2 separate regions of the Homo sapiens genome follow, and region 1 is linked to region 2. The links come from fine-mapping of genetic effects on gene expression. Tissue or cell type: whole blood. Region 2 holds a variant in brackets; the other region holds the start of a gene. All regions are shown on one strand. Distances are from middle to middle.

Region 1 (5,231 bases), 59 kb before region 2:
CATCAAATGGCAGCTGCTCCTCCATCCCCTCATCCTAGGAGTGGATGTGTGGAGGAAGGAGCAGAGGCGCTGAGCTTGCAATATATCTTCACAAGGCAATACTATGCAGCCATTAGAATTGAGGAGGTAGAAGGTACACTTAACATGTGATAATGTTCTAGCACATTAAGTTTAAAAAGTACCTGTGCTAGGCCGGGCATAGTGGCTCAAGCCTGTAATCCTAGCACTTTGGGAGGCCAAGGCGGGCAGATCACGAGTTCAGGAGATCGAGACCATCCTGGCTAACATGGTGAAACCCTGTCTCTACTAAAAATACAAAAAAATCAGTCGGGCGCTGTGGCAGGCGCCTGTAGTCCCAGCTACTCGGGAGGCTGAGGCAGGAGAATGGTGTGAACCCAGGAGGCGGAGGTTGCAGTGAGCAGAGATAGTGCCACTGCAGTCCAGCCTGGGCGAAAGAGCGAGACTCCATCTCAAAAAAAAAAAAAAAAAAAAAAAAAAATACCTGTGCTAGTTTGAAGACCATGGAAACTGTGGTAGAGCAGAAAGTGCTCTTGATCCCAGAGAAAAAAGAAGGGTGGCAACAGTAAGGGGGAACAGCCAGGTCTTTCCATAATCCTCCCCCAGAAGACCCCATTTTCTCAGGCCAGTTGGCCCCCTTACCCATCATGAGCAGAATCAAGAACAAGTTACTGATCTCTTGCAGCATCGGTGGGCCCATGACCAGCAGCAACCCAGCCAGCAGTTCCAGAAAGCCCACAGCTATTTGGTAGTTCAGGGGATCTGGCTGGTAGCCAAATACCTTCAGCGGGAACACCTCAGCAAACTGCACGAACAGGGCATTCTAGGGGTGGCAAGGAATGCCTGTTAGCCTCATTGTTCAACAAGGATGAGCTCCCCAGATGCTCCATGGCATATCTATGCCTGTGCCCTCAACTTCCCAGAGAAAAGAACTACTACTCTAGGTCAGGTCCAGGGCTGAGGTCAGCCTGAAGAGGAGAGGGCTGCCCTGTGGCGCTGAGCTTTGGAATCAGGAAACAGGCTCCATGCTCCAAGTGGTACAGAGATTGATCTTCTCACTAGACCTCTCAAGAGATTACAACCCAGCCCCAAATCCCAGGAGGAGGGGGCTGGGCTTGGCTCCCTAGTGCCAAGGCCTGGGGAATTCCACAGTTTCCTTCTTTGTGTCTGGCCTGGTTTCTCTTAAGGCTGCTGTACAGGGAATATTTGGAGGTGAGGCAGAGTTAGGTGGGCTCAAAGTGACTCTTCTTGTCAAGGCAGGCCCTCCCCTGAGCCAAATGACAACTTCATCCTTACTTTCGGGGATACTTTTTCCTGTTCCCACTCCTCAGCTCTACCTCCCCTCCTCAGCTCTGCTGGGAAGCAGCTCTAAGCTGTCTGTCTCTGGGGATTTATCCAGGCCTTGGAGAGAGATGCCAGCAGAGGTCTACAAGTCTGGCTCTTTTGAGGGACTGGGGAGATTGGTGAACAGGATATGAAAGCTTTCCCATGAGTCTGGAACTAGACAGAAGGCTGAAAGACGACTTCAGGGCATCCCTCTCAGGCTTCCGAGAGAGGCTTCCCTCTCTGGGTTCCGAGTTAGGAGTGTCTAGCTTGTGTCCTGCTTCCTGACTAGATGTGCAATCTTTAGCAGATATACTTGCCCTTCAGGGCGGGCTTCCTTCCCTGCAAAGCCAGGATTACTACACCCCAACCCCACGAACCTCCCAAAAACTGAAGCAAACGGCGAAAAGAGGGAAGAGAGCGGGAAGTGAGCTCATTTTCCCACCGCATCATCCTCCCCCAGGGTCCGGGGGGGTGGGAGGGACCTCCTAAGGCTCTAGATTTGCCTGGGGCCACCAATATTCTGCAGGAAGGGGAGGTTCTGTCCCCTTCCGTCTAGGGAAGATCCAGAGAACTCGAGGAACTCCCCAGGCAGGACCTGCGCCTCAGTCGAAAGCCAGGCGCTTTCCCCCAGCTCCAGCTGAGCCTCGGAAGCCCGAAGGCGGCCTGCCGGGCCGGGGGCGAGGAGCGGCAGGGCGGAGCACACGCCGCCGCGGGCCCGATCCCCTGCCGCCCGCCCGCGCCGCTCACCATCCGCTCCGAAACTGGAGCCGAGATCTCCTCCGAGAGCTTGGCCAACCCCACGAGCGCGAAGAAGCCGCCCAGCAGTACACGCAGCACCGAAAGCAGGAGCGCCATGGCCGCGCTCCCCCCACCGTGGGTTGGCCCCGCCGAAAACCCGCCCCTGCCGCCGGCTCATTTCCTCCCTCCCCGGGGCAGCCGGAAGACTCTCGCCTGAGCTACCGTCCCCCACCCTCCAGGGGGTCGCGAGGCTGCAGTACTGGGGCAGGGCGCCCCCATCTTACAGGTGGGGACACTTGAGGACCACTGGCTGGTAACTGACTAAACAGGCACCTTTGGATTCAGGGAGTGTTTCCCAGCCAATACGGAGTGCTGGCAGACACGGGTGGGTGTCTGGGTGCGGTTCAGCTACCATCAAAAGACCCCGGGCTTCGTTCCTGCCTGTGCCACACTAGCTGTGGGATCTGAGCTGTCACCCACCCCAAAGGGCCTCAGTATCTGCATCTGTATATGGGGATAACTCAGTTCTCCAGAGTTTGTAACAGGCCTAGCACAGTGCCTGCACATGTAAGAGCTCAGAAAGTTATTTGTAAATTAGTAAATTAATTTATAAAATTGTAATAAATCAATAACCATTAATTATTAAATAAGTCTCTTTGCCTGAGATATCTTTTCCCTCTAATTTATCTCGGCTGACAATGAAATGTGAAAGGTGTTTGAAAATTCAGATACTTGCATGGATAGAGAGGCTTTCACTGAACCAAGCCCTACAGTCCACTCCTGGCCCATTTGCTCTTACCTGGAAATCTGTCTAAAGCTGGGATGGGCAAACCATGGGCCAAATTTGGCCAGATGTCTGATTTTTTTCCATGCTTCTCCCCTTCCCCCAAGCTAATAATGTTTGTTTACATTTTTTATGATAAAAACATTTTTTAAAGAAGCTTGTGTGACATAGGAAAATTATATGAAATTCATATTTCAGTGTTCATGAATAAGTTTTATTTAAAAACAGCCACACTTATCTGCATATTGTCTATGGCTGCTTTTGCACTGCAACTGCAGAATTGAGTAGTTGTGACAGTATGGCCTGCAAAGCTGAAAATATTTACTATCTGGCTCTTTATTTAAAAAGTTTGCTAAGCCCTGGTATATTGGGCCAGAAAGGCCCCAAGCAGGGGTCTCAAATCCCCCTGCTGCTTCCATTTATAGTTACCCAAGCTGCTTAGATCTATCTTTTTCCAGCTGGGCACGTTGGCTCACACTTGTAATCCCAGCACTTTGGGAGGCCGAGGCAGGTGGATCACTTGAGGTCAGGAGATAGAGACCAGCCTGACCAATATGGTGAAACCCCGTCTCTACTAAAAAAAATACAATAGACGGGCATGGTGGCACATGCCTGTAACCCCAGCTACTTGGAAGGCTGAGGCAGGAGAATTGTTTGAACCTAGGAGGCAGAGGTTCCAGTGAGCCAAGATCACGCCATTGCACTCCAGCCTGGGCAACAAGAGCAAAACTCCATCTCAAAAAAAAGATCTATCTTTTCCACCTACTCACAACCTTGCAGGGGTAAGTAGCTGGTTGGCTAGAAGACTGAAATGTTCCACTTGCTTCTAAAGGCCAAGCTGTTTCAACATCCAGGTTGTGCTGTTACATTATAAACTGGGCTTCTCATTACCTGCAGTCTTTGTCACTAGTCCAAATTTAATGAAATAACTAAATTTTCTACCCTAGATTATAATTATACATAATTATTTATAACAATCATAATTATTAAATTCCTCAACAAAAAGGGAAAAATTATTAAAACATTTAATCACTGAAAACACAAATCCACATTAGGAAATTATCTTTTAGGATACTTATACAAAACTTAACACAGGATTATTGACTTCACTGTTAAGCAATGTGCATATTGCTACTCTTTCTCCTTCACTAATTTTTCTATCCTTGGAATTAAAGATGTGACTGCAAGTCTTAGGGCAGGGCCAGAACCCAACAGATTTTTTTGTTTTGACTCAGTCAAAGCTGAAAAGGCAGCATCACATAAATAAACAGTTGAAAAGGGTAATAAAAATTTCATTGCCCTTTCATGGAGTTCTGGGTAACTTGTCTTTGCATTTATCCAAAACTGAGTTACAGACACTGATTTAAATAGTGCTTGTAATCCTAAATCTGAAGATAGCTCTGTTAGCTTTTCTTCTTCGAAGTCGGTGAGATTATTATTTTGGTGATTCATAAAAGGGTGAATTATCCACAAATTTCCTGAACGCAAGTCTTGTTCTGGTGGAAAACAGTCACTGAACACTTGAGAAAGTCCTTCCAGGTGCTCAAAAATAATCCTTGTGATGTCTGTCATATTTAAGCCTGATGAATTTGAGAATTCAGAAAATGAAGGGAACATGTCATAATCATTCTCTTGTGTGCGCTTCAACCACATTTTTAACTTTCTCTTAAATACATCAATTTTATTACACAAATTGAAGAAAGTAGTCAAAGTTCCTTGGAGACTTAAATTTAATTCATTTATAAGTGAAAATATATCTGATAAGTAGGCCAGCTTTCCAACCCATTCCTCATCATGAAAATACTTGGCCAAATCTGAATGCTTTTGACTTAAAAATATTTCAATCTCATGTCGTAATTCAAATAATCTTTTTAACATTCTCCCTCTTGATATCCAACGTACTTCAGCATGAAGCGGTAAACTCACATGCTCAGATCCCATCTCTTCACACAAAATTGTTAACATACGTGAATTTAATGCATTGCTCTTTATAAAACTTAAAATTTGTGCTGACTGCAAAAGAATTTTATGTAAACATGGAGACAACTTTTCTGCCACTAAACGTTCACGGTGAATAAAACAATGTGTAAATGCCGCTGTATTCATGGCAACTTCTTGAATTTTTGCTTTTAAACCAGAATACCTGCCAGTCATGCTTGCAGCCCCATCGGTACAGAGACCAACACAATGTTTCCAATTCAGAGATTTACTATCAATATATTTATTTATTAGTTCAAATATTTCAAAGCCAGTTATTTGAGTAGGCATTTCAATGCAAAATAATAATTCTTCTTTTACATCACGACAATCATAATCAATGAAACGAATATAGCACAAAAGAAGTGTGATATTTGAGATTTCTGAT
Region 2 (5,231 bases):
CATTTCTCAAAAGAAGGCATACAAATGGCAGTCATGATGAAAAGGTGGACATGAAAAGGCGAAAAGATTAACATCATTGATCATCAGAGAAATGCAAATAAAAACTACAATGAGATATCATCTCACCCCAGTTAAAATGGCTTTTATCCAAAAGACAGGCAATAACAAATGCTGGCGAAAATGTGGAGAAAAGGGATCCCTCATACGCTATTGGTGGGAATGTAAATTAATACAACCACGGTGGAGAACAGTTTGGAGGTCCATCAAAAAACTGCAACTAGAGCCACCATATGATCTAGCAATCCCACTGCTGGGTTTATACCCAAAAGAAAGGAGATCAGTATATTGAAGAGATATCTGCACTCCCATGTTTGTTGCAGCACTGTTTACAACAGCCGAGATTTGGAAGCAACCTAAGCACCCATCAACAGATGAATGGATAAAGAAAATGTGATATTTATACACAATGGAGTACTATTCAGTCATAAAAAAAGAACGAGATCCTGTCATTTGCAACAACATGGATGGAATGGAGGTTATTATGTTAAATGAAATAAGCCAGGCACTGAAAGACAAACATAAGATGTTCTCACTTATTTGTGAGATCTAAAAATCAAAACAATTGACTTCTTGGAGATAGAGAGTAATGGTTACCAGAGGATGGGAAGGATAGTTGGGTGGTGGGAAAGTAGGGATTGTTAATGGGTACCAAAAAAATAATTAGAAAGAATGAATAAGACCTAACATTTGGTAACACAACAGGGTGACTATAGTCAATAATAATTGTACATTTTACAATAACTAAAAGTATAATTGCATTGTTTGTAACACAAAGGATAAATGCTTGAGGCAATAGATACTCCATTTTCCATGATATGATTACTACACATTGCATGCCTGTCTCAAAACATCTCATGTATCTCATAAGTATATATACTTGCTATGTACCCACAAAAATTAAAAATAAAAATAATTTTTAAAAGAGGTGGGAAGGCCAGGCCTGGCAGCTCACACCTGTAATCCTAGCACTTTGGGAGGCCGAGGCAGGTGGATTGCCTGAACCCAGGAGTTCAAGACCAGCCTGGGCAAGATACCTCAAAAATTAGCCGGGCCTGGTAGTACATGCCTGTGGTCCCAGCTACTCAGGAGGCTGGGAGGCTGAGGTGGGAGGATTGCTTGAGCCCCAGGAGGTGGAGTTTGCAGTGAACCGAGATCACACTGCTACACTCCATCCTAGGCAACAGAGTGAGACCCTGTCTCAAAAAAAAAAAAGAGAAAAGAAAGTGGAATTAGTTTCCCACCACTTGAATCTGGGCTGGACTGTGACTTACCTTGACCAATCAATTGCAAGGGAAGTGACCCTGTGACAGTTACAAGTGTAGGTTTTAAGAGGATTGGCAACTTCTGCCACCACATAAATAGGTCTGGCCAACCTGCTGGAGAGACCGCATGGAGAGAGAGGGAAAAAAAAGTCCCAGAACCTCCCTGCCAATGTCCCAGGCTCATGAGTGAAGCCATTCTGGATGTTCCAGCCAAGATCCTAGAAGAATGTAGCCACAGAAATAACCCCAGTCAACATGAAGTGGAACAGAACTCCCAGGTTGAGCCCAGCCAATCACCGAATCGTGAGAAATAACAAATTATCATCTTAAGTCACAAAGTTTTGGGGTACTTTGCTATATAACAACAGACAACTGACACACTAAAATAGTTTGCAGCTTTTAGTCTGATGTTATTAACAATTTCCTCTCAGTATGCGTGTTCAGTTTCAAGAATGTTTTCTTTGTCCTTCTATGAAAAATTCCCAGTTGCAATGTTATGTTGTATTTAGATTTCACTGTATAGATTACAGATTTATTATTACTCTTTCTTTTTATTTTCTCCTACCTTGAAAACTAGTTAGAGTACTCTTTCAATTACTTTTCTCAGATAAAGTTATGGATGATATACTGCCTGAATCCCTGATTATTAGTTAATGACTAAATTTCTATAACAAAGAAACCCCAAAATGCAATAGCTCAAGCAAAATTGAAGTTTATTTTTCTCTCATGTTGCATTTCAGAGCATTGTTTTAGGACATTCGCAGTTATGCTGCTACACAATCATTTATGGACATAGTATTCCCCCATCTTGTTTCTTTATCATTGAAACTGAGTCACAGGCACATCTTCCTGAGAGTGTGAAGAGGGCACACACTGGTCTTAAGTCACTGGGCTCAGAAATGGCACATAACACTTCTGATCACATTCTATTAGAGACAGCTTAGTCCATGTAGCCACGTCTAACTACAGTGGGGGCTGGGAAATAGAATGTCATGTTTGAGGCTACAATTATAATCCCACAGGAAAGGAGAAGATTGAATTTTACTGGAAGGCTAGCAATCTCCCTAACATCTTGTACAGTATTCACAAAACTGTCATCAATTTGCCCAAGAATGATAGCTATGCATAAGATTCTTGGATTTTAGTTTCTATCACAGTACTGTAGAACAGAAATGCAAAGCTAGTCTAATTCTCTTTCCTTTATAAGTAAAATGTTCTTTTTAATGCCTGGAATCATATAAGCCTTTTTTCTTTATCCTTGTTTCAGTTAGGATTTTCCCCAGTTACTACTCACCCACCCTGCACTATGCTCAGTAACTGGAGAGCTGCCTATCACTTTCCAGCAACTCTTTTTTTTTTTTTTTTTTTGAGATGTAGTCTCGCTCTGTGGCCCAGGCTGAAGTGCAGTGGCACGATCTTGGCTTACTGCAACCTCCACCTCCCGGGTTGAAGCGATTCTCCTCCCTCAGCCTCCCAAGTAGCGGGACTACAGGCACATGCCACCACGCTCAGCTAAGTTTTGTATTTTTAGCAGAGACGGGGTTTCACCATATTGGTCAGGCTGGTCTTGAACTCCTGACCTCAAATGATCCGCCTGCCTTGGCTTCCCTAAGTGTTGGGATTACAGGCGTGAGCCATGGCACTTGGCCTCCAGCAACATTTTAAAAACATTTCATAACCCAATATATTATTTTTTCAGCAAAACTTAGTGATTTTTTCTCCTAAATAGAGTAAATAAAACTAAACATAGCCTCACATCAGTTCTGGTCAGGCTTTGCTGCTAAAAGAGTTCAGGT[G/GTAGT]TAGTTATATTATGCCACCAACTGAATTATGAAAAACTTTCATTTTTAGAGCCTTTCAAATTTCAAGATTGTTAAGTAAGAGACTGTGGACCCGTAAATTTAAGTTTAAACTTTTCCTACTTTCTCATGAAGTTTCTGTTTATGATGGTAAGAATCAAGGAAAAGGTTTTGTTTTGTTTTTGTTTTTGTTTTTTGAGATGGAATTTCACTCTTGTTGCCCAGGCTGGAGTGCAATGGCGTGATCTCAGCTCACTGCAACCTCCGCTTCCCAGGTTCAAGTGATTATCCTGCCTCAACCTCCCAAGTAGCTGGGATTACAGGCATGCGCTACCATGCCCAGTTAATTTTGTATTTTTAGTAGAGACGGGGTTTCTCTATGTTGGTCAGGCTGGTCTTGAACTCCCGACCTCAGGTGATCCACCTGCCTTGGCCTCCCAAAGTGCTGGCATTACAGGCATGAGGTTTTTGTTAATATGCACTTTACATCACCCCTTTTCTGGTGATTTGGGAGCACTACCTTGGTCTGCATATGTGGCTTAAACAAGATGGAAATTTATTTCTCTTTTACATACATAGAAGTTCACAGGTTGTTGGTATGGCAGATCCATAAACATAAAAAAAGTACAAATTATAAGTGTAAAACTCCATGAATTTTGTTATTATTATTATTATTACTGTTATTATTGAGACAAGGTCTGACTCTGTCACCCAGGCTGGAATGCAGTGGCACAATCTCAGCTCACTGCAACCTCTGCCTCCTGGGCTCAAGTGATCCTCCTGCCTCCGCCTCCTGAGTAGCTGGGACTACAAGCATGCACTACCATGCTTAGCTAATTTTTGTATTTTTATAGAGACAGGGTCTCACTATGTTGCTCAGGCTGGTCTTGAACTCCTGAGCTCAAGCGATCCATCTGCCTCAGTCTCCCAAAGTGCTGGGATTACAGGTGTGAGCCACCATACCTGACCAGCTCCATGAATTATTACAAAGCAAATATAGTATTTTAACCATTAACCAGACCAAGATATAGGACATTACTAGCCCTCCAGAAGGCCTACTTCTGAGGAAATGAACTTTGGAATCCTTCTGTGAGTGCCTTATTTTATTTTATTTTATTTTATTTATTTGAGACAGGGTCTTGCTCTGTCACCCAGGCTGGAGTGCCGTGGTGCAGTCATAGCTCACTGAAGCCTTGAGCTCCTGGGCTCAAGCAATCCTCCCACCCCCAGCCTCCTGAGCAGCTGGAACTATAGGGACACCCTACCATGACCAGCTAATTTTTAAAAAAAATTTTTGTAGTGATAAGGACTCACAATCTTTTCCAGGCTGGTAATGATAAATTTTAAATTGGGAGGATAAATAGTCTTCTGGCAACCAGATGAGGGGGTGGACTTAGGGGAAAATTGGGGGAACAATGGTGCCAACACGAAGTCACATGACCCATAGCAAGACCAAGCAAGAACCTGCAAATAGAGGTAAAAGGGCCCAGCTTTGTATCGTGCCAAAACCAACTCCAACACCAAGCTTCTGGGTTCAGGGCAGAAAAACAAGTCAATGCAAGGGCTGTACCCAGAGGCATCTGGAGAAGAGTCAGACAGTGAATATGAACTATCCCAGGAACGTGAGCCCACACAGGATAGTGTTCAGCCAATATTTCAGCATGCCTCCGCTGTAGGTTTATTTCAACCTTCAGAGATTTGATGCAAGTCCCTTCCTCAACCCAGAATGAGGACAAATGCATCCATGGAATTACGTGGACTGAAGCCCTGGTTTGGCCTTGACCACATGCTGGTCCCAGACCTGAGAAAAACTCTCTTGCTACACCTCAGTAGCTACCATCTGACTGCCTTGGGCTCCCCCTCTCTCCAGCAGAGAGAACAATACTCAATCACTGCCCCCACCCACAAACACTCTGGTTATGCCCTAATTCTGTGGGGCCAGAACTGGTTCAGGCTCTAATCCAGAAACTGCTGCTTCCCAGAGACCATAGAAATATTCTCACTCTCTCACTCTCCCTCAGCCTTGATCATAGGTCTCCCACCCATGGCCAGAGCTGACCCAGCTCCTCAGCTCTGCACACACCTGCACACACTGGCCCTGCATCCTCTGACTGGA

The links. PIP is the estimated chance that this variant, and not a neighbour inherited with it, causes the effect.
Region 1: it holds the start of TMEM35B, and the variant in region 2 is fine-mapped to the expression of TMEM35B in whole blood (TOPMed, PIP above 0.99).

The regions. Positions count from the first base shown.
Region 1 is chr1:34,983,107-34,988,337 of GRCh38, forward strand. It overlaps TMEM35B (transmembrane protein 35B), which reads right to left and starts at 2,241. Exons shown (of 3, transcript NM_001195156.2): 1 at 2,092-2,241; 2 at 661-841. The coding sequence starts at 2,199. ZMYM6 (zinc finger MYM-type containing 6) reads right to left here. Exons shown (of 16, transcript NM_007167.4): 16 at 3,059-5,231. The coding sequence ends at 3,998. RefSeq lists silencers at 1,800-1,869, 1,930-2,219.
Region 2 is chr1:35,042,242-35,047,472 of GRCh38, forward strand. No RefSeq gene overlaps it. Among named protein-coding and RNA genes, the nearest start is that of ZMYM6, 13 kb to the left of the region's middle. The variant G/GTAGT (reference allele first, on the strand shown) is at 3,119.